Regions from separate parts of the Homo sapiens genome. Here regions 1, 2, 4 and 5 are each linked to region 3. The links come from fine-mapping of genetic effects on gene expression. A gene starts in region 3. Each other region holds a variant in brackets. All regions are shown on one strand. Distances are from middle to middle.

Region 1 (5,108 bases), 1.0 Mb after region 3:
ATTTTTCAAATAAAGAAACCAAAATTGAGAGAAATTATGACTTGCATGGTTCCATGATCTTTCCATCTCATCACACAATCTGATTTGCTTCAGACACCTAATGGTTTTAAATACTAATTAAAAAACATATGAAATGCTGGTTCTTCAGAATTGTCTTTGGAATGAAGTACTAATTCACCTGCTTACTGCATCTTCTGACCTCTCCAAACCTCTCACCATCCACATTGTGTTTTCTCAATGATTCAACCTAACAGGGTTCTTATATTGCTCCTTTTGATCAGTTGTGGCAGTATCAGAAACAGGGATATGAAGGTCCTGGGTCCATGAGACTTGCCATTAGGGGCTGATCTGTGTCTCTTGTTTCTCTACAATAACTTGATTGCTGTTGTTGGCAGCACTTACCTATAGAAGAGCTCCTAATGAAACAGGCTGGCTGGCTTCCTGTTGTGATCTGCTCTAGAGGAGAACAGAAGCCCCTACTCAAGCCCTAGCTTACCTAACTCTCAGCAAATCAGTAACAAAAGACCCAAGGAGTTATTAACAGCAAGTTCCTACTTTGGGGGGATAGAGACTTCCACAAAGCCCCACAGGTGCAGTTAGAACTAAAACTCAACCTATAGTTACCCCTTCCTCATTTTTGTGCTAAGAATAATGCCTTGGGTGGAGATTTAAAATGCTAATGCTACATTTGATGTATGAAGAAGCATGTTGAGCCACTGTATGAGCACTAGAAACCACACCCCCCGCACCCCGCCATATGTGCCCTGATGTAACCCTTCTCTATCAAAGGATGCTATAAAACTAACGCACACACTACCCTTGGAGAGCATCTCTTTCCTTTTCCTTTCTTGGTGCTGGCTCCCTTGTGCACAACCTGAATACACTTACCTTTGCTGCTGCTCTGTTTGGTGATCTCTCTTGATTTCTATCCTGGGAGACAGCAAGAATCCAGAGTGCTGATAACACTCACAGAACATTGTTTTGCATAATGTATTACTAAGTGCCTACCATTATTTCAGCTTTTAAATTTCTCACCAACATCAAAGTCAAATTCAATTAAAATATTATTGGGTAAAATGAGATCTCCTTTCATTGAGTATGATTTGTATTATAGCTCCTGTAACTTCAAGACAATAGCATTAATTAACATGTAAAAACACTTACATTTTCCTTGGTAAGACTTTTGCTTGGATCTGTCTTAACAAATCTAGAATATAGAAAAATCTTAGAGGTAGCAATCAGGTTAGAAATGGGTACCTGAAACTGCTATTATATACTATTTATCTGAACTGGAGATAATGCCAATTGTCTATGTAAAAAGAAGAGAGGGTGCTGATGTAGATTACGGAGTGAGAGTGGGGAGTAAAGCCCCTGAAGATCACACCTTCTCAGTGCCACTATTTACCTGTAAACTCGATTAGCTGTTCCCTGAAGAGCTCCCTGCTCTTCTATCTCAGACTTCAGTTCAGTCAGTTGCACAGCCAGTTTTTTCTCCAACAGCTGGACCCTTTCTGTGGAAGTGATCTTATAAATTTCATCCATGATTTGTATTTGCTGTTTTTCTGTATCCCTGAAAAAGAGGATCACAAATCTTGATGCCCTCAGTGACCATTATCCAGCATGTTGAACTTTGTCTATCTTTGTCCAAGAAATCATGTCAACTTTGTAGAAATGCATGCATTTTGCTATTAGACTGTTGTCATTTGTGATTTAATTAACATCTAGTAAACAGTAGAGAAAAAGTAGGTTAGAATCTCCACTGGCCATGCCTTTGATTAGCCCAGTTCACCTTCAAAAACATCTCTGCTTCAGCTTTGGCTGTGGGGTTTAATAAGTGAGAATGCACCCCCCACCACCCCTCACCTCTGCAGTCTTGATAAATGTTTGTGGGGATTACACAGTAACTTCTGTGAATGGCAGTTATTGCTGACTTCTAATAGAAAATTGTACTTCCGCATTTGAATGTGTTTTCTTAATTTTGACTGCCTACATTTAGCATACCGGTTTTACCATTAAATAACAGCTGATAACCTCCCACCCCACCTCACCTGGTTCACAGTCTGTCAAATTCAACATAATTGTTTGTTAAGTACTTAGTATCAACATTCTAATTAACAATGTAGATTAACTGCATGACTCAGAAGTCCTGGGACCCATAAGTTGCAGGGGATTCAACAGATGATGTATTTCCTTGTGTTACTGCTGCCCTCACCTGTCCTGGACAAGTATGAGTTAAGTCTCTCTTAGGCCACATTAGAGAGATTTAAAATACTTAAACCTTATTTTTTTCCTGTGATATTTCTAGACTCTCATCTTTCCTTTTGAGATATTTCATTTTCTCAAGTTAATATGCTGTCATTTCAACAAATAATTAAGCTGTAGAGATGTTTTGTGTAGAGGCTTCCTTTGGGAGCCCATTTATTCTTTTTCTAAATATATGAAAAATGGAAATGAGCATCCATGTTCAGTCCAGGTTGTGAACCTGCCTAGTAATAAATCTGTCGTGTTTGGCACGCCATTGGAGCTCAATAAAATGCACTGTTATTGTTCTTAGCAAAAGTAAAATGTTGTTATAGAAAATATTTGCCATTTGGCAGTGTCCTTTCAAGTTGG[G/A]CAAACAGTTAAACAGCTGCCTTAACAGCTGCATTCCAATCGGCAGCCAAGAGTGGCAGCAACATAGACTGGCTGATTATTCTCCCAAAGGACGGACATTCTGCCTTCATTTCTTGATCAGTTTCAACACTTCACAGCTCAGAAATGAGAACATTTAATCCTGTACTGTTTAGCTTGCAACACAGTCAAGCACAGTATTCAGAAAATTAACATAAAGGGGTCAGTCTTTGACAACTGTCCATGAAATGAATCCAACCCAGAGAAATACATGCCTGCTGAGCACTCATGTCTAGGTTTAAAGAGACAACTGTTTATTTGGAGGGGTATGGGAGGTGTGCTTCATTTATTGAGAACCTACCGTGTGTCAGGCAAGCACTGGGAACTCATTTAGTCTTAGAAAAGAGATTGCGAGAAAAGAGAATTTCTTCAATCATGTTTTTAAAAATAAGTACATTTAATTATTTGTAATTCATAATTATGTATAATACATAATTTTTATGCATTTAAAACGTGGTTAAAATTTAAGACAAAAATAGTAAGATCAGCTTGAGCAAGGTTTGGGGGTGTTCAATGTGTGGTTACAGCAGGCTTGGATGGGGATAAAGCAGACACGTTTAGAAAAGAAATACTGAGTAACTATTTTAAAAGTTTCAAGGTGATGAGTAAAAGAATAGAAATGCATCTAGATGAGTTCATGTCATTTGTAGGGACATGGATGAAGCTAGAAACCGTCATTCTGAGCAAACTATCGCAAGGACAGAAAACCAAACACTGCATGTTCTCACTCGTAGGTGGGAATTGAACAATGAGAACACTTGGACACAGGGTGGGGAACTTCACACACCAGGGCCTGTCATAGGATGAGGGGAGTGGGGAGGGATAGCATTAGGAGATATACCTAATGTAAATGATGAGCTAATGGGTGCAGCACACCAACATGGCACATGTATACATATGTAACAAACCTGCACGTTGTGCACATGTACCCTAGAACTTAAAGTATAATAAAAAATAGGAAAAAATAAAAATAAAATAAAAATATCCGTACCTATTAAAAAAAAAAAAAGAAATGTATCCTAGAGCTTCCCAAAGAAGTGGGAGTAAGGGGTGAGATAGGACTTTTAAATCCAATAAACGGTGGTCCCCAACCTTTTTGGCAACAGGGATTGGTTTCATGGAAGACAATTTTTCCATGGATGGGAAGCAGCAGGTGGCCAGGCAGAGGGATGGTTTCAGGATGAAACTGCTCCACCTCAGATCATCAAGCATTAGCTAGATTCTCACAAGGAGCACGCAACCTAGATCCCTCACATGAACCATTCACAATAGGGTTCATGCTCCTATGAGACTCCAAATGCTGCTACTGATCTGACCAGAGGAAGCTCAGGTGGTAATGCTTGCTTGCCTGTGCTCACCTCCTGCTGTGTGGCCCAGTTCCTAACAGGCCACTGATGAGTACTGGTCCATGGCCTGGGGACTGGGGACCCCTGCAATAGAAGGTAAGAAAAGTGGTGGTGGGGGGGAACAAAAAGAAGTATGGCAGAATTAAGTTCAAATGTAACAGTAATTATAATAAATGTAAATAGTTAAGCTCATCAAAATACATAAATCAGCACAGCTTCAAGTGTTTTAAAGGCTCCCAAAACTTGATAATGTGATATGTACCAAAATAAAACAATTATTTTTATTCTAGCAAATGCCAGAATTTAAACTGATAAGCATACTGGTCCCATATCACTGTGGGCTAATCCAATTCTCTTTATTGATCTGCACAGATAGATACTCTGTAACCTTGTTGGGTAAACATTTTTGATACGTAGTCATCTTGATCATCAAATGCTTTCAAATCATCTATGCTTTCAAATGAAATACATTACATGCCAGCTTCTGCATTAGTAGGGGTGTGGCTAAGCCATTGTAACAAAAAGACACCATCACCAGTGGCTAAAAGAACAAACTCATGCCTATAATCCCAGCACTTTGGGAGGCTGAGGTGGGTGGATCACTTGAGGCCAGGAGTTCGAGACCAGCCTGGCCAACATGGTGAAACCCCACCTCTACTAAAAATACAAAAACTAGCCAGGCATGGTGGCATACACCTGTGATCCCAGCTACTTAGGAGGCTGAGGCAGAATGGCTTGAACCCAGGAGGCTGAGGTTGCAGTGAGCACCACTCTACTCCAGTTTGGGTGACAGAGTGAGGCTCTGTCTCCAATCAATCAATCAATCAATCAATCAAAGAAAAAAGATCTTTTAAATCTCTCTAACCTAATGGTGCTAATGTAAATGGTCTGGGGTTGTAGAGCAGCCCCACTACTAAATGGGCACTCAACGGCCCGGGTTCCTTCCAAGTCTGCTTCATCATCCCCTAGGCATTGTTCAGATAAACACATTAGTGTTTTCCCTTCATTGTGTCTATAGAACATAGGGGACATGAGATAAATATATTTGATAGTCTGAGTTGAATAACCTGCTTCTACTTCTAGTTTGCTGAG
Region 2 (5,108 bases), 210 kb before region 3:
AATAAAATGAGTTGGAATTGTTGAGTTAAATGAATTTAACCTGTTTTTTGACTCAGGCCTACTCAGAGCCTCTAATGTGTGCACGTGTATTGTGAATCCTCTAGAGAGCTTGGGTGGACGGAAAATGAAGTGCTGGTATTGAAGTAAAGAGGCTTGAGGAGGCTGGGCACGGTGGCTCACGCCTGCAATCCCAGTACTTTGGTGCAATCCCAGCACTTTGGGAGGCTGAGGTAGGTGGATCACTTGAGTTCAGGAGTTCAAGACAAGCCTGGCCAACATGGTGAAAGCTCGTCTCTATAAAAATACAAAAATTAGCTGGGCATGATGGTGGGTGCCTGTAATCTCAGCTACTCGGGAAGCTACTTGAACCCGGGAGACGGAGGTTGCAGTGAGCTGAGATCGCACCATTACACTCCAGCCTGGGTGACAGAGCAAGACTCCGTCTCAAAAAAAAAAAAAAAAGGCTTGAGGAGAAATGGATTTAATTTTAATATTTGGGGAAGACGACTTCTGTTAAATGATACAGTAAGTTATATTTTGGACATCCTGAGTGAGATACAGGGTTGCCAATGAAAGTGTGGGAAAGAGAAAGCTCTTAGCACAGCTACAGCTTTACTGTTGCGTTCATTCAGAACTTGCATATGATTTTGTTTGCAGAGAACATTCTGCTGGTAGACAGTGAGAGAAGCCCACCAGTGTTTTATGCAGTCATAATCATTCCTTGCAGTATTAACATTCTCAAGTAAAATCAAGTGTGGGCTCTTTTCTATAGATTTCCACCAGGGGGTGGTGTTGTATCAGATTCAGATACATTGGTACATTCAAAAATTTAGAAATGACTAGAAATGAAAGATGGATACCAGGTATATAGAGTGTGCGTGCTTCTTTTGAGGTTTTGGAGTTTATATACTCCAAGTGCAACTCTTCTGAATTCTGTTTTAAGTATTTGAGAAATGTATAAGTTTAGACAGACTGGAAACACATATGCATCATACATAATCTGTGAGAAATAAAAGGTTATGATAAAACAGCATTTTTTAAAGGAGGAAATAATTTTTTAATAGTTAAAAATAAAAATGAAGGCCACTGTTCAGAATAGGTAGAATTTCAGTCATTTCGAAGCAGCTTTAAGTGTACTCCTTTGTTCACTATGCCTGTGGTTCAGATCCTGTGGCATTTTTATTGTGTGTTGTGGGCTCACCTTCTATGACCTTTGCCTATTTGTTACTCTAGTTCAGCTTCACTCTGCGTTTTATATTTCTAAAGTGCAATGCTACAAGAGTGCAAGACTGGAGGCTTCTTGAGAAAGTGGTTGTGGCTGCATGCCCTGATTTCATTTTCACTAATTGCTAAATATTGTTCCCAGTGTCTCTGAAACATTATTCATTTTGGTCAGTAGCTGCCAACCTGGGCTGCAACTTAGAATCACCTGGGAAGTTTTTAAACAATGTTGATGCCCAGGCCTGCTTTATGAAATTAGAATCTTTGGTGGGTGGGGCGGAGCTGCTGCATCAGTGTTTACTTAAAGCTGTCCACAAAGTTCTGAGAGCCAGGGCTGAGAACCACTGAGCACTACTTCCCTCCCCTCCTTCTAGGCCCCCACTGCTAGCGTCACCATTATCCTTCCCTTCCTTCCTCGCCATCTTGGGGCATCGAGCTCAGAGGGATGTGCTCACTTAGGCAAGTGTGTCCTTAGGCACTTCTGGGCAAGGTGGCCTAGAGGAATTAGCTGTCCCAAAATAGCTCTCTAGAAATACTGGAATCACCTTGCTGGCTATCAGTCAGCTGCTCCAAGACAGCTATCTGTCTTTATCTGAAAGACAACAGACTGAATGTACAAATGGACAATGGCTAGACCACATATAAAAATAGAACTCTGGCCCACAAGCTGCAGCAACCTGCCCAGGAAACCAATTCCCTTATCTACAATAAACAACACAGGAAGCCAGCCTGCTACACAAGTATATCAGACTTGCAGGAAGCCATATTGC[C/T]ATCTCTAGAAATAATCCAGAAAGATAAACAATAACTTCTGTAACAATTCACACAAAATGGCCAGGACTTGATTAATAATTGACAGCATCCCTAATTTTTGCCCCCACCTCTAACTTAGAACAAATCAGAGAAAAAAAATATGCTTGCCCCCACTTCTAACTTAGGACCAACCATATAGGATGCTTTGCTTCTAGTTAACTTGCCTACAGTGTCCCCATGCCTATCAGGACATATGTGAAGTCTTCTCTTTTTTCTGTTGTGAAGCTTTCTCACCCCTCTGCCTACCTTTGAATCTCTGCCAAATGTAAGTGTGATGGGCTGACTCCCTTGCTATAGTAAAATCTAAAGAAATAGCCTTTGCATTTCTCATTTGACTGGTATATTAGTCAGGGTTCTCCAGATAAACAGAACCAGTGGGACATATGTAGACATATAGAAAGAAATTTCTTATGAGTGTTGGCTCACACAATTATGGAGGCTGAGAAATCCCATGATCTGCTGTCTGTAAGCTGGAGGCCCAGGAGAGCTGATGCAGTTCTAGTCCAAGCCTGAATGCCCGAAACCCAGAGGAGCCAGTGGAGTAAGTCTGAAGGCCACAGTGCTGAAATCCAGGGACAGGAGAAGACAGATGTCCTAGCTCAAGCAGAGAGCAAATTTGTCCTTCCTCACCTTTTTCTTCTATTCAGGCCTTCAACAGATTGGATGATGTCCACTCACATTGGTGAAGATAATCTTCTTTACTTAGCTTACTGATTCAAATGCTTATCTCTCCCAAAGATATCCTCATATATACACCCAGAAATAATGTGTTGCCAGCTAGCTAGGCACCCTTAGCTCAGTCCATTTGACACATAAAATTAACCATCACAGCTTATCTTCATTTACTTCAAAGATTTCAATGTTTATATAAGTTGAGGTCTTCCTGGGTAATCGGTGCTACTGCCTGAGAATAGACTGCTTTATTTTTTCTTTCTTGTTTTCTATTTCAGAACATCTTTTATTTTTTTCTGAACATGAAGAACAACTGATTTCCTTCTTAAATCTCTGCTTTCAAGTGTCTGGCCTTTGTGGCTGAGTGTCTGCCTGCTGTGTCTGTGACCCAGAGGAACGAGGCTGCTTTGAGCCCTGTCATTGCCAGCGTGTGCTTCTTCAGCAGGCAAAGGTTATGCACAAAGTTTTAGGATTTTTTTTTTAACTTTTGGGATTTTATTTGCTTAGGAAGAAAAAAAAAAGTTTAACAGAAAGGCCATAGCCCAGGTGGACACAGTTGTATAGAAGAAAGGCTATTTTTAAAAATGACATATATTCTTCCTTTTATTGAATAATGCATTCAAATCAACTGATATTTGAACCGGTTTTTCTCAATCAATTAAAAGCTTTTAGAAAAAAGGAAGAAAAGGATGGTGGAACATGTGTCCACTGGGAGTTGTAGTTCTTAGAAACCTGTTTCAGGACTTTCGTAACTTGTCAAATATTTGAAATAAATGTAGCATTTTTTTTATTTCTCTCGTTTTTCTTCTTAAGGGTGTGAATGATGGAGACACATTTGAAACCTGCTTCCTCAGGATATCATTCACTCAAGAAAAGCCAATTGAGATCTTTAAGTGGTCCCTTTCTTCTTGAAAAATCTCAGCAGTTTGCCACAAGGCCTGGGGGTTTTATTATTCTAAGTAACTTTGCTGCCAATAAATCACAGCCCTAAGTAGCCAAAGGGAATGCATTAGCCAGATCTCTTATAAATATAACCAATGCTTCTTCAATTATTAGCAGAACAATTGACTTCCATCTACTCAAGGCACCTGTCAACCTGGCCTGCAGCCATGATTCCCACAATTCCACCTCCCAGAGCCTGTTCCCCTTGAATTATAATTTTTTTTATACTGGTGCACATTCTATGGTATGAGCCCAGGACCCAATTTTTCATGTATCCCGGTATTTCTCTTCCTTGCAGATCCAAGTCGTCTGTCAATGGAACTCAACCAGTGTGGTTGAAACTCCACATGGTCTTTTTGCTCTGCCCAGGACTCCTTTCCTGGGAAATCTGCTCAGACCTGGAAGATTCACTGTGTGGGCAGTATCCCTCAGGCCCTACCTCTCTGGTTACAGCTTATTGGAGCAGAGGAAACTGTCAGGTTTAGGCCCCATTGCAGGTAACAGAAACCCCCTAAATATTTGCTTAAACAAGGTGGTCATGTATTTCACTCACATAAAAGAAGCCTAGATACAGGCAGTTTAGGGCTGTTGTGAGGTCTCCAATGGTCATCAGTGATCCAGGCTCCTTCCAGCTCATACTATGCTATTTCAAGGGTGTGGCCCTTGTGCTCACATCCAAGATGGCAGTCAGAGCTCCAGCACATCATTATATCCACTCTCCAAGGACAGTTCCCAGAAGGTTCACATAACACCTTTGCTTGTATTTCACTTCATAGGATTTAGCCTCAGGGTTACACTGAGATTCAAGGGAAGCCGGGAATGTAGTCTTTTGTCTTGGTGGCAATGTAAAAGTCAAGGTTTTAGTAGGCTCTGCAAAAGTATCAAACTATAAATTGAGTTAGGTCAGTGTTTGGGCTCTGAAACTGAAACCCCAGAATATGGCACATTGACATGCTGAACTGAAGAAGTCTCAAGGTCTGTCTGACCTTCTCTACCCCAATCCTGTCTCTCCCAAAGTACAGGATGCAGCTGTTCTCTGAAGTTCCATTATCTGCCTGAAGTCCAAACCACCAAAGAAAAAAATCAGTTACCTCTGGTACCTTCCCTGAGTTTTCATGAACTGAACTCATATGACAGGAAGAAAGACTGAAGTCTGTCAACACACCTGGACAGACTTCTGTCCCAAACCATTGTCTGCTAAGCAGACCCAACCAACTTTGTCCCAGGCCATTATATGTTCTTTAAACCCACTGAATTCCCCTAAAAATCATTTACAACTCCCCTAAAATCATCCACACTTCCCCATCTTCCTTTCCCCTAAGAAGAAGGGTATAGAACCATCTGTACCCCATTGGATCATGGGGACTCACTCTAATTCACCCTTGTGCATGTTAAGAAATTTGTATGCCTTTTCTCCTATTAATCTGCCTTTGATCAGTTGATTTTCAGTGAACTTTTAGAGG
Region 3 (5,108 bases):
ATTGAATGACTAGCTTCAGGGGCTGAGGAAGAAGGAAGAGAAAAGGATACCTTCTTTGTTCTCGGCTTCAACTAGTGGGTGGATTGTGGGATGACAGATCAAAATAGGAAAAACAGAAGTGGATTTTGAGGGAAAGAAAATAATTTTTCGACACACTGAATTGGAGGTGGCTGAGCGCCAACCTGCAAAAGACAAATGTACAATTACTGTGGGAGATTTTTATATACCTCTCAAGATCGTAAGCTAGCAAGGAGGATAGAACTGGAAATAAAAGGATAGCAAGCATTTAATTAGTGTTCATTGTGTGTGGCACTGTTAAAAGGGCTTTACATCTTTTATGACAATTATTATAATTCTGTTAGATAGGTACTACTGTTATTCCTACTTTACAGATCAGCAAAAATTAGGTACAGAGCATTTAAGTAACTTATCCAAGGTCCCCAGGTGGGTAAGTGCTGGAGGCAGGATTTGAATTACAGTCTTAATTCCAGAGCCTGTGCTAACCATTTCACGGTGTTCACCTTGAGCTAGAAGCAGCACAGCCTGAGGTTGAAGGTATGGGAGAATATGTGGAATGCAAAGAGGACTAAGAGCAGAGTCCTGGGAAACACCAGTATTGAAAAGGGAGAGTAAAATAATTGGAACAGAATGCTGAGTAGAGCCCCATGGAAGCGAAACGGAGAGAAAGTTTCAAGAAAGAGGAACTAATGAACAGTGTCATTTGATGCAGACATTTAAGTCAGATGGCTGAACTTGACAACTGGAAGGCCTGGGACATCACTCACAGACAGTAGTTTCCCAAGAGGATAGGGCCAGACTGCATTGGGTTGAGGAGAAAATGAGACGAAGACAAAAAGAGAGCTCCAAAAAGCTGAGCTGTGAAAGGAGAAGACTCAGGAGGTTACTGGAGGGGCTTAAGTTTGGAAAGTTTTGTTTTGATAGGAAGTTAGGAGGATTCTAAGCATTCTTTCATGACAGATGTCCATTTTTAAAAAGTAAAATTCACATACAGCTTGTTAAAAACCTGTAAAACACTTCTTAAGTCATTAAACTAGACTTGGGGACATGATACAAAGGAATTTTTGGACACCGCCTCCCCTCTTCACATCTTGAGCTGATCACCTACCTCGGGCTCTACTGGGCCTACACTACCAATTGGTAGATGCTCTCATCAGGCTCCAGACACATCAGCTTTTCCTCAGTTCTTCAAACCCACTAGGCTCTTTGCGTTCTCAGGCTTGCCTGTCACCTCTGCCTGGAAACTCTTGCCTTATTAATCAGCTTCCTCCATTGAGATCATGCAGCTGTTTCTCAAATCCAAGGCCTTTTTCTCACTGTATTAACACACACAATCATAAAACATTTACTGCACTCTCACTAGTTGGCTCTGTGCTATATGCTTTATTTGTGTAATTTCACTCAATTTTCACACTCATCTTTTCATGTAGACAGATGTTTTGAAAATGATCTCCACTGTACAGGTGAGGAAAGAAAGGAGGCTGCATAACTTGTCCAAGTTCACACAAGTGGTGGTGCCAGGATTAGAACCTAGTTCTTCAAAAATAAGACAAATCGAGGCCACTGCTCACACAATACTCTAGTTTGGGAAGTCCTGATCTAATTTCACTTATGTTCCGAGATTACACCTGCACTTTCCAGGCTATGTCCCTAATCCACAAATTCAAATTTCATCCCCTCCTTCCACTTGCTTTCTGATGGCGGGAGGCAAGGGCAGAGAGCATCGGAGGGCTATTCCGAACTTCCAATTCTGCCTCTCCCGAGGATGCATGTGGGAAGGAGAAGAAATTCAAACGTTAGCAACTTATCTCTGAGCACTGAGAAAGAGGTAACCCGGTACCTAACAAGCGGCTGGCAGTTCTGGAGCTGAAGCCAACAATTCCCACACTGCATTAGTAGCAAAAGTGCTTACCTTAACTGCCACCTCCGGAGCCGAGTCCACTGCCACTGCTAGAGACGGCTTTGATGAAGGCGATTTAGTCAAGTGCATGAGGGAGTCGGCGGCTGGCAGCGGACACCGACTGCTCTCACTGTCCGAGTCCGATTCGGACCCTGAACCCGAACCATAGGAAGCGGCCAGAGCTGCAATCGCAGCCGACATGACGGCAACAAATCTTCTGCGGAGACCCTGCCAGGGCGGAAGAAGAAGAGGCTCCCAGGTCCTGACAGATTGCAATGGAACACATCATTAACTTTCTTTGCTAAGAAATAATGTCTTACATTTTGAAACAATAAGCTAATTATTATTAGAATAACTACTGTCGAGCTGAGAGCTTAAAAAAGTTTATCTAGGGAAAAAGGGAGAATTATAATAGTTTATAACATTTAGGACCTAGTTGACTAAAGAATATGAGTTCCAAAATACCTTGAGGCCTCGCGGTCCTGCACTCCCAGCGTGCAGCGCGGCAGGAAGCGCGAGAGGGCACAATGGGAAGTGTAGTTTGCAACGAGGGGGCGGAACGGGGGCGTGTCCCCCTTTGACCCCGCCCCCGAATGGATGTTCCATTCAATTGGCTATCATCTTCCCTCATTCCCTAGCCAAGCAGTGTTCTCTTCGTCCCCCTCCCCCAAACTGAGGATTGGGCAATACCACAGAACCTCAGGAAAGGGGGGAAGAGCGAGCTTCGGCCCCACTAATGGGGGAGTGGGCGGAGGCTGGATTTCCCACCTCGGCTGCACCTGGGCACTGGAGGCTGAAGAGGAAAGTGAGAATCTGAAGTTTTGAGACCTCTGACTGGCCAGGAATAGCTCCTGGGGCGGGGGGCAAGGATGGGACCATAGGCGGAAAGAGTCTCGCGGTCCCCCCTGCTTCTGGCGCGGGTCCCTGCGCCCGGTTGTGGAGCGTCTCGCGCGGGGAGGGGGCGGGGGGAACGGCAGCTCGCGGTGTTGTTCACTCGCGCGTCGAGCACACGGTGGGTCCGGCGGCGGGTTGGCGCCCCAGGCGGCGTTCCCTGTGGCCTGGCGCCTGGGCCGCTGCCCTGAGCGGGTTCCGCCCCAGAGCCCGACCCTCCTGGGGGCTCTAGGCGGAGTCCCGCGAGCCGAGGGGGACCGGCGACCGCTGCCGAAGCATGAAGAAGGGGTAAGGCGTGAGCCCCCAAGATTTCACGGTGAGCGCGAGTCCCTGAGGAATTGCTTTTTTCGGGGAGGGGGTGTTGGGAGAGGAACTCTTCCTTACTGGCCGGAGCAGACCGAGTGGTGTGTGGCCCGCAAAGGTGACGGGGATGGATGGGCGCGCCTTCCCCGCCCCGGCCCCCACCCCCATCCGCGGGTTTTCCGAGCGCCCACCGCCCACCCGCCAGCGGGGCTGGGTGCCGAGGGAGACGGCGGCGGGCGCGCCTGGGGCTTGGCTGCAGGGACCGCCCCGGGGCTGCTCTCGCTGGAGAGACTGTGGGTGTCACCTGAGGTGCCACCGCCCGGGCTTCCCTGCCCACCCGCGCCCGCGGTCCGCCCCGTGCCTCTTTCCGGGGGAGGCGGTAGCCCCGGGCGACAGAGAATCCCCTGCTCGCCCTACGTGCGCGAGGCTCGGTAAAGCGAGCTCGTGCGTTTGCGTGTTTGCTCCGCGAGTCGGTGTCTGAAAACATAACGGTAAAGCGAGTGCGGGCATCCTTTTCTTCGTTGGAAGGGGAGGCGAAGCGGTGCTGTCGCTTCTGGTGCCTGTTCATGGGGGCTGCCTTGGGCAGAGTTACGGAGCCGCTCACTCAGCGCTCATGTCGGCAGGACTCGCCCATTGTGCCACCCAGATAATTATTCAACTATGCAGCATCCATTGCACCTTTCCCATTTTTCTTTTCCCCTTGCTACAGCATGCCCCCTAGCTTCGGTACTCTGACACCTTCTCTTGCACTTGCGGATGATGAACTGGAATAACGATGAAAGAAAGCACATCCGATCTCAACATTCACGTCCTGCCCTATAACCGATTAATTAATTGATCCCCAGCTAGACTAGGTACTTAAATACGACTTACTCTAATCATTTCCTTTTCTATGTAATAAGATGTGCGGTGGATTCGACTTAAATTTTTTCTTTGGTGTTAGATTCACGATTAGCTAAGGTCTTTTTTCTGTTCACTAATTGATGTAATTGACTTATTGGTTATTCAATCCGTCTAATGTTCTTAAATTTAAATTTGCATGGTAGGTAACATTCATTTTTCTGATTGTTCATAGCATTATATCATAATTAGAAATGCAGTCTCAATTTGAACTCTCAGGAACAGTTTATCCTTTATGCTCTAAGTTTCTGTTAGGAAACATTTTTGTTTATATTGAATATTTGAATGAAGTATTTGATATAAAATTTCGGAAGTTTTGAATAAGAAAAGTTTTGTATTTGTTTTTCGGTAGCAGAATATGTCATTACTAATCGTTGCCTTCCATTGAATGGAAGGATTTAATATTTAAGATGAGGATTTTAACCATCATATCAGTCATTCCCTAATTTATCTGATTTTATTTTTTATTCACTTTTTTCTTTGCAATATCATGTATTTAATTACTTGTTTTAGAATCCAGTTTTTTTTTTTCTAACTTGAATCTACAAGTATGAGTAGGCTTCAGTTTTGCGTGATCTACCTGAAGGATGAAATTTTTTTTTTTTTGCAAATATAAGAAACCACTGTTGGTTACTTGATTTTTATGTTAAAAACTGTTTACATCTCATTATTTAAAAATAAATGATTCACTATAAAAAGTAAGTGTTGTATTTTTATAATTTTCCTTTTCCATCTTTCCTTGTTTAAGCTTGTTGCATTTACCCTTTTGATAAAAGAGAATCACATAAGCATTGCAGAGGCAGTTTTAAGGTATAGTAATTGTTTTATGGCACTTGGAAGTGGCGTACATATAATATAAGTTGATGGTGTAGGATTAGTTGCTTGGTTAGGAAATGACCTTGCAATTTACAAAATGGACACCTTTGTGCCTTGGTTTCCTTATATGTAAATGGAGATAATATTTAGTAGGTAGTGTGCATAAATTCAGGAAAGGTGTGTTTTTGTAGTCCTTTTAAAGAAAATTTAAATCTTTTAGCTGATGAATGATTAAAAAATTTCTGTGAAAAATACAATGAAAAAATGTCAGGATTTTCCA
Region 4 (5,108 bases), 67 kb after region 3:
TTTTTCTTTTCTGTTTTGTTTTTTTTTTTTTCTTTGAGAGAGAGAGAGAAGGTCTCACTTTGTCACCCAGGCTGGGCTGGAGTACAGTGGCATGATCACGACTCACAATAGCCTCGACCTCCTAGGCTCAAGTGATCCTCCTGCCTCACCTCCCCAAGTAGCTGGGACTACAGGCACATACCATCGTGCCCAGCTAATTTCTGTATTTTTGGTTGAGACGGGGTTTCACCATGTTGTTCAGGCTGGTCTCAAACTCCTGAGCTCAAGCAGTCTGCCCACCTCAGCCTTTCAAAGTGCTAGGATTACAGACTGTCATGCCTGGCCAATTTTTTTTTTTTTTTCAAGCAGCATACATGGAAACTAATTATTTTCTTAATGGCATCTGGGAACTCATCTGCTGCCTCTTGGCTGACAAAAGCTGCAGCTTCTCTTGTGACATTTTTGAGGCCAAACCTCTTCCTGAAAGTATCAAAGCATCCTTTACTGCCATTAAATTTTCCAGGTTTAGATCCTTTGCCTTCCTTTTGCTTTAAGTTGTCATATATGGACTTCACTTTTTCTCAAATCATGTTAGAGTCTGTATGTATGCTTTCTTGTAACAGCCATGCACCCACAAAAATTGCATTTTGATACAAGATTAAAAGGTATTCGCAAAAAGTACAAGGTTTTTGTGTCTGCTGGTGTATCTGCAGCAATGGCTTCATGATTTTCCTTTTCTTTTTTTATAATTGCCCTTAAGTTTGATTCATTTATCTTGAAATGCTAAGCAACCACAGCTGTAGACCTCAATCTGGGGTTCATATCAAGCAATTCAACTTTATCTTGTAGTGTTATGACTTTCTTGTACTTGAGAGTACTTCCAGCATCACTGGTGGCACTTTGAATGAGTCTCACAATGTATTCAAGGTTTACAGTATTGCATAAAACATGATGGAAAATACACAAGAACCATGAGAGATTACTTCCTACTCTTATATGCAATTTAGTGGAGAGAGAACTGCTCAAACAGCATTTTAAGTGGATAGTAACAACACTAGAGCTAACTGCAGTATCAACAGAGGGTGGCTATAAAATTGTTACAGTAATACAGTATTACACTTAAATTTATTGTTATGATTTAGTACTATTAGGTTGGCAAAAACTGCAATTACATTTGCACCAACCTAATATATCTTTCCATTTCTTTATATTTCTCTTGACTGTGAATGGCACTATGTATGTTTTTGTTTTGTGTGTAAATTTTGATAAATTTTAACTTTTTATAATTTCTGTATATTTTGTGGTAGTAAATGATAAAATAGTCTAGTATTTACATAGATTTTATGCATTCATATCTTTAAAATATACTTTAAAATTTTTAGTATTTTTAGGCTATGTGGTTCATCTGCAAGTTTTTTCAAATTGTCTCAAATCTCCAAAATTTTCAATGTATTTATTGAAAAAAATCCACATGTAAGTGGACTATTACAGTTAAACGATTTTGTTCAAGGGTCAACTGTAATTCCAAATAAATTCCAAATTCAACAGGTCACCAGTTGTAATATTACATTGTTCATTATTTATCTCTGATCACAAAGTATCTGAGGGCAAATATCATGCTAGATTTCTACTGCTTGCAAAGATAAAAACTCAGTGCTCTGGATGTTAAATTTTATGATATATGTGTCATTTTTGCTTAGGTAAATATGCTGAAGATATATTTGGAGAATTATTCAATGAAGCACATAGTTTTTCCTTCAGAGTCAACTCATTGCAAGAACGTGTGGACCGTTTATCTGTTAGTGTTACACAGCTTGATCCAAAGGAAGAAGAATGTAAGCTTATTAATATTGTATTTTCTTCTACGTATATATTTTAAGTTAGATGAGATGAATGATATACTTAACAGTATTAATCATGAATTTATTACAGATCATACCCATGTCCTTTGGTGTACATATTGTAATAAATCAGTGAATTATCTAAAAATGCCATCAGTATGATTCTCCGGGCTTTTCTTTTCTACTCTGTTTTAAATCTCTTCTTTTTGTACACTAAACAGCTCCTAATTTTTTTGCATAAAGAAGTCATTTTAACCAGACATTTTCCTCCATTCTCTTCATTATCTTTCTCTTTTCATTTCTCCCTTATAATTTATTTGTATACTTTTGTCTTAGAAATAAAAATTATTAGAAAATTACCTGAAATCTTTAGGTTTGATTCTACAAGAATGTAACTGGTTTTTTTTTTGTTTTTTTTTTTTTTT[G/TTG]AGACAGACACTCTGTCACTAGGCTGGAGTGCAGTGGCGCAATCTCGGCTCACTGCAACCTCCACCTCCCAGGTTCAAGCAATTCTCCTGCCTCAGCCTCCTGAGTAGCTGGGATTACAGGTGTCTGCCACCACGCCTGGCTAATTTTTTTATTTTTAGTAGAGATGGGGTTTCACCATGTTGGTCCGGCTGGTCTCGAACTCCTGACCTTGTGATCTGCCCACCTCGGCCTCCCAAAGTGTTGGGATTATAGGCATGAGCCACTACACCTGGCTATGTAACTGCTTTTAATATGCTTTTGTATGTGCATATTGCTAAAGTCTTATTAGTTATTTAACTGAATGCAACTTCCTACTTTAAATGAACATTTCAAAAACAAATTGCCAGTATGTAGGGTGTAAACATTCTATACCAAGATATTAAATCAGGAATAATCAGATAGGCTAAAATAATTGTAGAAACTTCGGTGGTAAAATCATGTTTTATGCCTTGATAGAATACATTGAATGCCGACGTTTCCCAAATGCATCTTTTTGTTTGTTTCACAAAAAGAAATGCAATACTAAGAACATAATTTGCACTTACCTACCACAGAGAATTGTTTAATGGAATTTCTTACACTCTCTTCAAAATATTTTTGTTGCATTAAATAGTATAAACACAAATTATATGATAGATCTAATTTTTAGTATAAATGCAAATTATATAATAGATCTAAACTTTAACAATAAAAATACTAAAGGATGTCAGTGGAAAGAACAAAAATATAATGTAATGATAGATGTCTTAGTGATGGAACCAGCTACTTTTGAAATAATCCAATGTGTAAATAAGGAGAGGCAAATACTTGGCATACTAGATTTGTACCACTTGTAAAATGTAAACTCAGAGCTCTGGATACAAGAAGAAAAGGAAATAATACTTAAAAAATAGCTTTATTAAGATATATTTCACAACCTACGTATACCTTGCAGTTCACCCATTTAAAGTTGAAGTGTACAATTCAGTGTTTTTTAGTATATTCAAGTTATGCAACCGTCACCACAATCAATTTTAGAGTATTTGTATCACTCCAGAAAGAAGCCCTGTACTCATTAGCAGTCACTCTGTTTCCCCTTCAGCTCAACCCCTAGCAATCACTGATCTTTCTGTCTGTATGGATTTGCCTCTATGGATTTGTCTGTATGGATCTGTCTGTATGGATATTTCATATGAATGAATAGTACAGTATGTGGTCTTTTGTGACTGGCTTCTTTTAGCATAATGTTTTCAAGGTTCATTCATATAGCATGTATTTATATCTCCCTGATGGCTAATGATGTTGAGTATGTTTTCATGTGCTTACAGGCCATTTGAATATCTCCTTTGGAGAAATGTCTATTTAATTCCTTAGCCCATTTATAATTTGTATTATTCGTGTTTTTATTTTTGACTTGTTGGAATTCTGTGTATATTCTGGATCTAAATCCTTTATCAAATATATGATTTGCAAATATTTTCTCCCCTTCTTTAGGTTGTCTTTCTTGGTGGTATCCTTTGAAACATGTGCATGTATCAATACATTAATTACACCTCATGGAATTCTTGAAATAAAATCATTGTTAGTGGTGAAAAATATTTTATGGTCATGCTTTCAAATACATAATTTATAGCCAAAATTTGTTTTTCAGATAACTCAACTGCTTATCACTTAAATATAAATTTATGCCATCAAATAATAGAGAAATACACAGGCAGTTCTCATATGTAACAGAAATAAAAATCAACATTTAGTTTCAAAATATTGTTACATTTTAACAAATGTCTTAGAGCCACCATTAAACTTGAAAGTGAAAATACAGATAACAGTAAATAAATTAAGATGTTTGTGTTAAAAAACAAATTTTAATATGTCAACAGCTATACTGTCAGAATTATACCTAGTTTCCTTTAAAATTTTGTGGAGCAGTGGGGGAAGAATTCAGAATCTAAAAGCTGAACTACTTAATTTGAAATTGTTTTGGAGAGGTTGTATTGAAGGAGTTTTCAGTTATTTAACCTAGGTTTTTTAATTCAGTGGGAATTAAAAAAAAAACATCATGTGTACAGTACTAAATAGCACAGTGTGGTATCAGTTTTTTTAACCGTTTTGTAGTAACTAAAAACTATCAATTTTGAAAATATTTTTTAAATGAATTTTAAACAAAGACTTGTACAATTATATTTAAGTCAATTATGTTTATAAGCATTATGCTAATTTATTGCTTTATAATTCTATTTTATTAATATCAGATGTTATTGTTGGCAAGTGGAAGGAGCTTCACCACAATAGTCTGTTAATAATAAGACAAACGATAAATGAGAGGAGTTGAAGATAGAAAAGTACATCATGCTTATTAGTTTACATGTTTCTTACATCCTTTACCAAGGAAGTTTGGCGAGATTAAACACTAGGTTTCATCTTAATTACATACTTATTGATTAATAAGTGGGGCAGGAGAGTGGCAAGAATTGATCCACTTTGACTGCAGAAAACACAACCCACTTCTGGCAGGAGCCTGAGAACAGCGTGTGGTATTGTGGCAAAAAGATTAGCCTCAAAGGTAGACAGATCTGACTTTTCTGTTCTGGCTCTGCTGTTTATTAACTGTTTAACCTCAGGTCAGTTATATACTATTTCCTAGCCTTAGCTTTCTTATATTTCACAATGGAGTAATAATTCCTGTCTTACTGAATTGTAAAGATTAAATGAAATGAAATTTAGTGAAACCATCTAGCACATATAGTATGTACTCATTAAATACTGTATCTCCAGTGCCACTTTTTAGTGATAGTGGGGAAAAACTTTTTGCTTCTCTGAATTTTATTTTAGTATTTATAAGTG
Region 5 (5,108 bases), 210 kb after region 3:
GCTGCCTTTAAACATGACCCCCAAGTCCAGACTATTCCTGCCTCAATGCAGCCAACTTAATTACAAGAACAAGGGACATATGACAGTTCAATTATTTGGTGCAATAGCTGATGTTGGACAGAAAGTGAGTTTACACACAATTTATCCATTTGGAGAGCTTAAAAAAATCCACACACCACTATTTTCTTGAACCCAAAACTTGGCTGAAGTTCTAAATTTCTGAAAAGAGCCGTTTTGTGTTTCGGTACAAGATTGTCATCTAAGAGTCAAGAATGTTATTTCAGAGCTGTCAAGTGAGCCGTCAAACCACTGTAACAGCATGTTAACTGAGGATTTTCCAAATGATCAGATAAAAGCCCAAGGGGAGGAGAATCCTCCTTAATATCTAAGTATGTTCCATTTTCACATGCCACAATGTAGCAGAAAGTATGAGGTTAAAATTGAACCTACCACAGGATCTCTGAATATCCTTAGGCTTCAACATTACCAAGAATGGATTTCTCAGTGATTTCCAGAGGAAGACAACACATGTAGAATCATGTACATAAATGATGGTTGAGGATATGTAGACTGACTTTGAGTGATGCCAATCTGTGGTTACCTCTTTTGGATGCTAGACTAGGTCCTGGGCAGACAGAGCATGTTCTTTCAAACTCCTCCTTATCTCCCCTATATCCACCCATATTTTGGAAGGTAGAAGATGGGAAAGCAAAATATGTCTGTTTCATCAGTTATGGATGGAAATTAGATGGACTTCTTTACTTGCCTTGCCTATAGCTACTATATAAGCACCTGCCCTTCCAATGGTCTCCTAAAGTGTTCAGCCTGTAAACTACATGAAATTTTCCACACATACCCTAGTATATGGGAGGAGATTGACACCTCAACTGAAGCTAGATACGATCAGCCATCCTTTGCTGGGCTAGTGACCAGATCCTTTTCTGTTGAAAATTTGAACTAAGAAACACGTTAACAACGGTGAGTCAGTGTTGGGCTCTGGACATGAAAGACAGTGATAAATTAGAGCTGAACCACTTGTGTGTTGGACCTTGTGTGAAGTGTTTAATCAGAGAAAGCCAACTGCTCTGGAAGAATGAAGCAGATGTGTGAAGAGGAACAGAGATGAAGAAGATCAAATGACCAAGAGGTGAAAGGAGTGACCTCAGTCCCTGAGTGTCTGGTTCCTGGCTCTGGGAGCCCAAATCCCTTGATGCCTTGAAATTACATTTTGGGTCTCTACCACAAACCTTCCTAATCTTGCGCTACCTTGAATGGTTTCTATTCTGTGAATCCTTGATCATTGACTGAAACATACAACCAAATGTATTATTCATCCACCAGCTTGTCTGGTTTTGTTTATGTTTTGGGGTCTTCAGAGTTTGGCTTCTGATTGGTAGTCACAGATTAAATTCATTATTGCCAACCCTTTGACCAACTTATCACAGGCTGAGGTGCCTTGCTTCTTTCTGTTCTAGCACTATTTAAGCATAAACATGAGGACACTTTTCTTGTCTGAGGCTAAGCCCAGGAATCAGAGCCTTTCAACCACAATCTTTCTTTCTCTAGCTTCCTTTGATATCTCATTCCCATCTCAGCCTAAGCCAGCAGTTCTCAATCCTGGCTGCATATTAGAATTACATGGAAGGGTTTTTAAAACTACCCATCTTTGGATCCCTCACCCAGAAATTCTGATTCATTTTGTCTGGAGTGGGTATTTTCTAAAGACCCGAAAGAAAACTCAGGGTTGAGAACACTCATCTAAACAATCCCTTTGTCAGTTTAGTGTGTAGTGAAACTCCTGAAATAGTGGATATCTTTTTGGAATAGTTGCAATAAAGAAATTTCAGTGAGAATCCAGCTCTAAATCATTGTGTAATTTCAGGTTTAACACATTCACTACATCTCCTCTGCAGACCTTTAATTTTCCATATACACACAGAACCTCCTTCCTCTCTCAAGATAAAGGCTGGCACATGGTTCTCTCTTGGCCCTGATGAATTCAATAGCCCCATTAGGGAGCACTAAACTCTGGCTCTGGTTCAGGTTGTCCCAACCCTTTATTCTGCTGTAGGTTTCAAGATACCTCAGCATTTGCACCCTTGCTCTGGCTGATCTCACAGCTGCCTCCCAGGTGTGCCCTCTCCTGGCTCAAATCCTTGCAAATCAATTCTGTTTCATAATATCAGGACTGCAGCCAGCCAAGCTGTCCAGAACCTTACAAAACTACGTTGAAAAGACCCACACTGGCAAGAAATTCTGGTCTCTCTGTCTCTTTCTTTCTCTCTCTCTGGGCATCTGCATGCGCATACACACACACACAAACACACACACACACACACACACACACACACGCTCCCTGTTCTTGATTCTTGGGGATAAGCAGTATAGTGTTCAACTGGGAAGTGTAAGTCTATCTGGTGGTATCCAGGTGCTTGTGCTGACATCTCAGGAAGACAGCAAGTGCTTGGTGAGATGTATGAAGCTGTTTATTAAGAAAGATTGTTGCTACAAGAGACAGAAATCACAAAGGGCCACTGAATACACTACATTGTTTGTCCAGATCCATGGTGTTGGATGGAGTGTAATCTT[T/C]TGGGGACACATGCTGAGGAAGATGAATTCTATTAAAAATATCTCCTTTCTTTCTGTTTCTGCTTGTCCCCAGGGGTGCCCCTCATCCTCAGGCATCAGTGCTCTATGGTACCTACTTCTTCAGCATGTCCAGACACATCGGGGATGTTCCTACCTCCCTCATGCCAGGTGGGCAGTCCCCACTCCAAAGGGCTTCTATCCTGGAAGCTCAGCATCAATTAATGTTCCCCACAAATTTAGATAAGGAGCAAAGCACCATTATTATCATCACATGTCCACAGGATGCAGAACACTGCAGGAAAGTTGAGATTTGGGGTTTAATTCACTTAATGAACATTATTTTGCATGAGAAATAAATCATAACATTTAAAGGCATATGTATTTTTTTCATAAAGAGTGAAAATAACTTTATTGAGTTTATGAAGGAATGTATACTATTACAACTTAGAGCACCAACTTTACTGATTATGAGAATGTTAATGAGAAAGTTGTTTCTATTAATTAGTGTATTTGAAAATGAACACAGAGGCAGTCTTCCAACCTGCCATGCCCCCCATTTTCTTTTCTCTCTCTCTCTCTCTTTTTGTGTTTTAATCTGTATTTCCCTGATAACATGTAATGTGGAGCATCCTTTCAGATGCATATGTACCATGAGGATATCTCTTTGGTGAGGTGTCTGTTAAGGTCTCTGGCTCCCCCCACCTTTTTTTTTTTTTTTTTTTTTTGAGAAAGAGAGAGTCTTACTGGGTCACCTAGGCTGGAGTCTCTCTCTCTCTCTCTCTCTTTTTCAAAAAAAAAGGTTCGGGGGTATATGTGAAGGTTTGTGACATGTGTAAACTCCTATCACAGGGTTTGTTGTACAAATTATTTTATCACTCTGGTGTTAAGCCCAGGACTCAATAGTTGTCTTTTCTGCTCCTCCCCTTCCTCCCACCCTGCATCCTCAAATAGACCCTACATGTTCAAAGTGCTTTGAAGCTCCTTCCGTACTATTTCATTTTATTCTTCGAGACAATTACATGGAGTTTGAAGTTATGATCTTTGCAGGTGGGATAACTGAGGTTCAGAGAGGTGAAGTTGTCCACAGTTACACAGGGCACTAGCAGGAGACTTGAGCCTTGATCTGGTTCATTTCACCAGCGTCATACTCACTAAGGGCTGCCATTTGCCAGGGACCATGACAGGTCCTGGAGCTGTTGATGGAAAGAACAGGATGGTCCTCTCCCTCACCCTTCCCTGGCATGGCCATCAGGCCCCCAGTAGCAGGTTTGCCTCTCTTTCTGTCCCTGTCTGGGCCAAGAGGGCAAGTGAGGCCTGATGAACCATGCAAAATGGAGCAGCACTATCATCAACTCTGGCCTCCAGGACACTGGGCATGTGGTCAGGGCTTCCCCATGTGGTAGGAAAGGTGCCTCCCCTTGCCACAGTTCTCAGCTCCCCTCAGTTTCCCTGAAGGGCAGGTGAGCAGGGGCTTGGGGTTGAGTAATTCAAAAAAGGTTCCTCTCCATTTCTAGCATAGACTTTTCCCTACCCCACCTTACCCCAATGTTTCTGCTTTGTATGAAAAGAAAGGCCACCCTTAAACTAGATAGCAAAATTAAGCCAGTTAGGGGCTGCCCAGCACCTGTTTAATCAGACAAATCCATTGTGTTCATGAGACTGACAATCTTGTGGGGAAGCAAAAACAAATATGGATCAAAGTGTGCAACAGTGTGTAGGCAGACTCAAAAACTCATAGAGGATTTACTGTGGATAGATGGATCCAAGATAATGGAGGTTGAATTTTATAACTTCAGTATTACTATGAGCAGCATTTGATAGACTGTTTTCTGTTTGCAAGCTGTTTTTTAAATGTATTGCTTTGAACAATTAAAGAGAATTTTGAAAGAAAATCATTTCCCAATATTCCCATCAGCTAAACAAGATTGCTTCACCCCCACCACCACCCCAAGACTGTAGACTTTTTGAGAGGATGGATCAATTCTAATTAATCTTTCCATTACTATTATCTGGCACAAAGTAGGTGCTAAATAAATGTCTCTTGAATGATTATTTCCAAAATTTATCCACATGTATATATATTTCATGTAGATTTATTGCATAGTGTGCAGTGTACTATACATACAGTTTACAATTCAAATTTTCACTTAGTAATAAATGGCATGTTGTTAATAGTTTTCTTTCCTTTTCTTTCTTTTCTTTTCTTTTTTATAGAGATGGGGTCTCGCTATGTTGCCTAGGCTAGACTCAAACTCCTGGCTCAAGTGTTCTTCCTGCCTCAGCCTCCTGAGTAGCTGGGATTACAAGCATGCCCCACCACACCCAGCTCTTTATTGTCAACCTTTTCTATGTTGCATTGTAATTATGTTTTTATACTTTGCCTAGTCATTGATTCAATAAGCATTTATTGAGTGCTAACTATATGCTATACATCGTGCTAGAAAATGACACCAAAATATTGTCTGTATTCAGAGACAAGTAAACAGATTTTATGAGGACGGTATAATGCATGTTATAAA

Direction of the effects. Alleles are on the strand shown, and positions count from the first base shown. SD is a standard deviation of normalised expression in the study named. Not every link is listed here.
With allele G in place of A in region 1, the expression in synovium of the gene that starts at base 2,894 in region 3 is lower (moderate effect, 0.75 SD a copy in Steinberg 2020).

Evidence for each region.
Region 1: its variant is fine-mapped to the expression of WASF1 in synovium (Steinberg 2020, PIP 0.95).
Region 2: its variant is fine-mapped to the expression of WASF1 in pancreas (GTEx, PIP above 0.99).
Region 4: its variant is fine-mapped to the expression of WASF1 in whole blood (INTERVAL, PIP above 0.99).
Region 5: its variant is fine-mapped to the expression of WASF1 in spleen (GTEx, PIP 0.97).

What each region holds. Positions count from the first base shown.
Region 1 is chr6:109,180,389-109,185,496 of GRCh38, reverse strand. It overlaps the pseudogene CCDC162P. Among named protein-coding and RNA genes, the nearest start is that of CEP57L1, 87 kb to the right of the region's middle. The variant G/A (reference allele first, on the strand shown) is at 2,614.
Region 2 is chr6:110,386,706-110,391,813 of GRCh38, reverse strand. DDO (D-aspartate oxidase) reads left to right here. Exons shown (of 5, transcript NM_001372108.2): 5 at 1-30. Among named protein-coding and RNA genes, the nearest start is that of DDO, 26 kb to the left of the region's middle. The variant C/T (reference allele first, on the strand shown) is at 1,992.
Region 3 is chr6:110,177,456-110,182,563 of GRCh38, reverse strand. WASF1 (WASP family member 1) reads left to right here and starts at 2,894. Exons shown (of 11, transcript NM_003931.3): 1 at 2,894-3,125; 2 at 3,822-3,966. CDC40 (cell division cycle 40) reads right to left here and starts at 2,137. Exons shown (of 15, transcript NM_015891.3): 1 at 1,931-2,137. The coding sequence starts at 2,119. RefSeq lists silencers at 2,865-2,974, 3,215-3,534.
Region 4 is chr6:110,110,032-110,115,139 of GRCh38, reverse strand. It overlaps WASF1 (WASP family member 1), which reads left to right. Exons shown (of 11, transcript NM_003931.3): 5 at 1,680-1,814. Among named protein-coding and RNA genes, the nearest start is that of WASF1, 67 kb to the left of the region's middle. The variant G/TTG (reference allele first, on the strand shown) is at 2,246.
Region 5 is chr6:109,971,580-109,976,687 of GRCh38, reverse strand. No RefSeq gene overlaps it. Among named protein-coding and RNA genes, the nearest start is that of GPR6, 4.2 kb to the left of the region's middle. The variant T/C (reference allele first, on the strand shown) is at 2,590.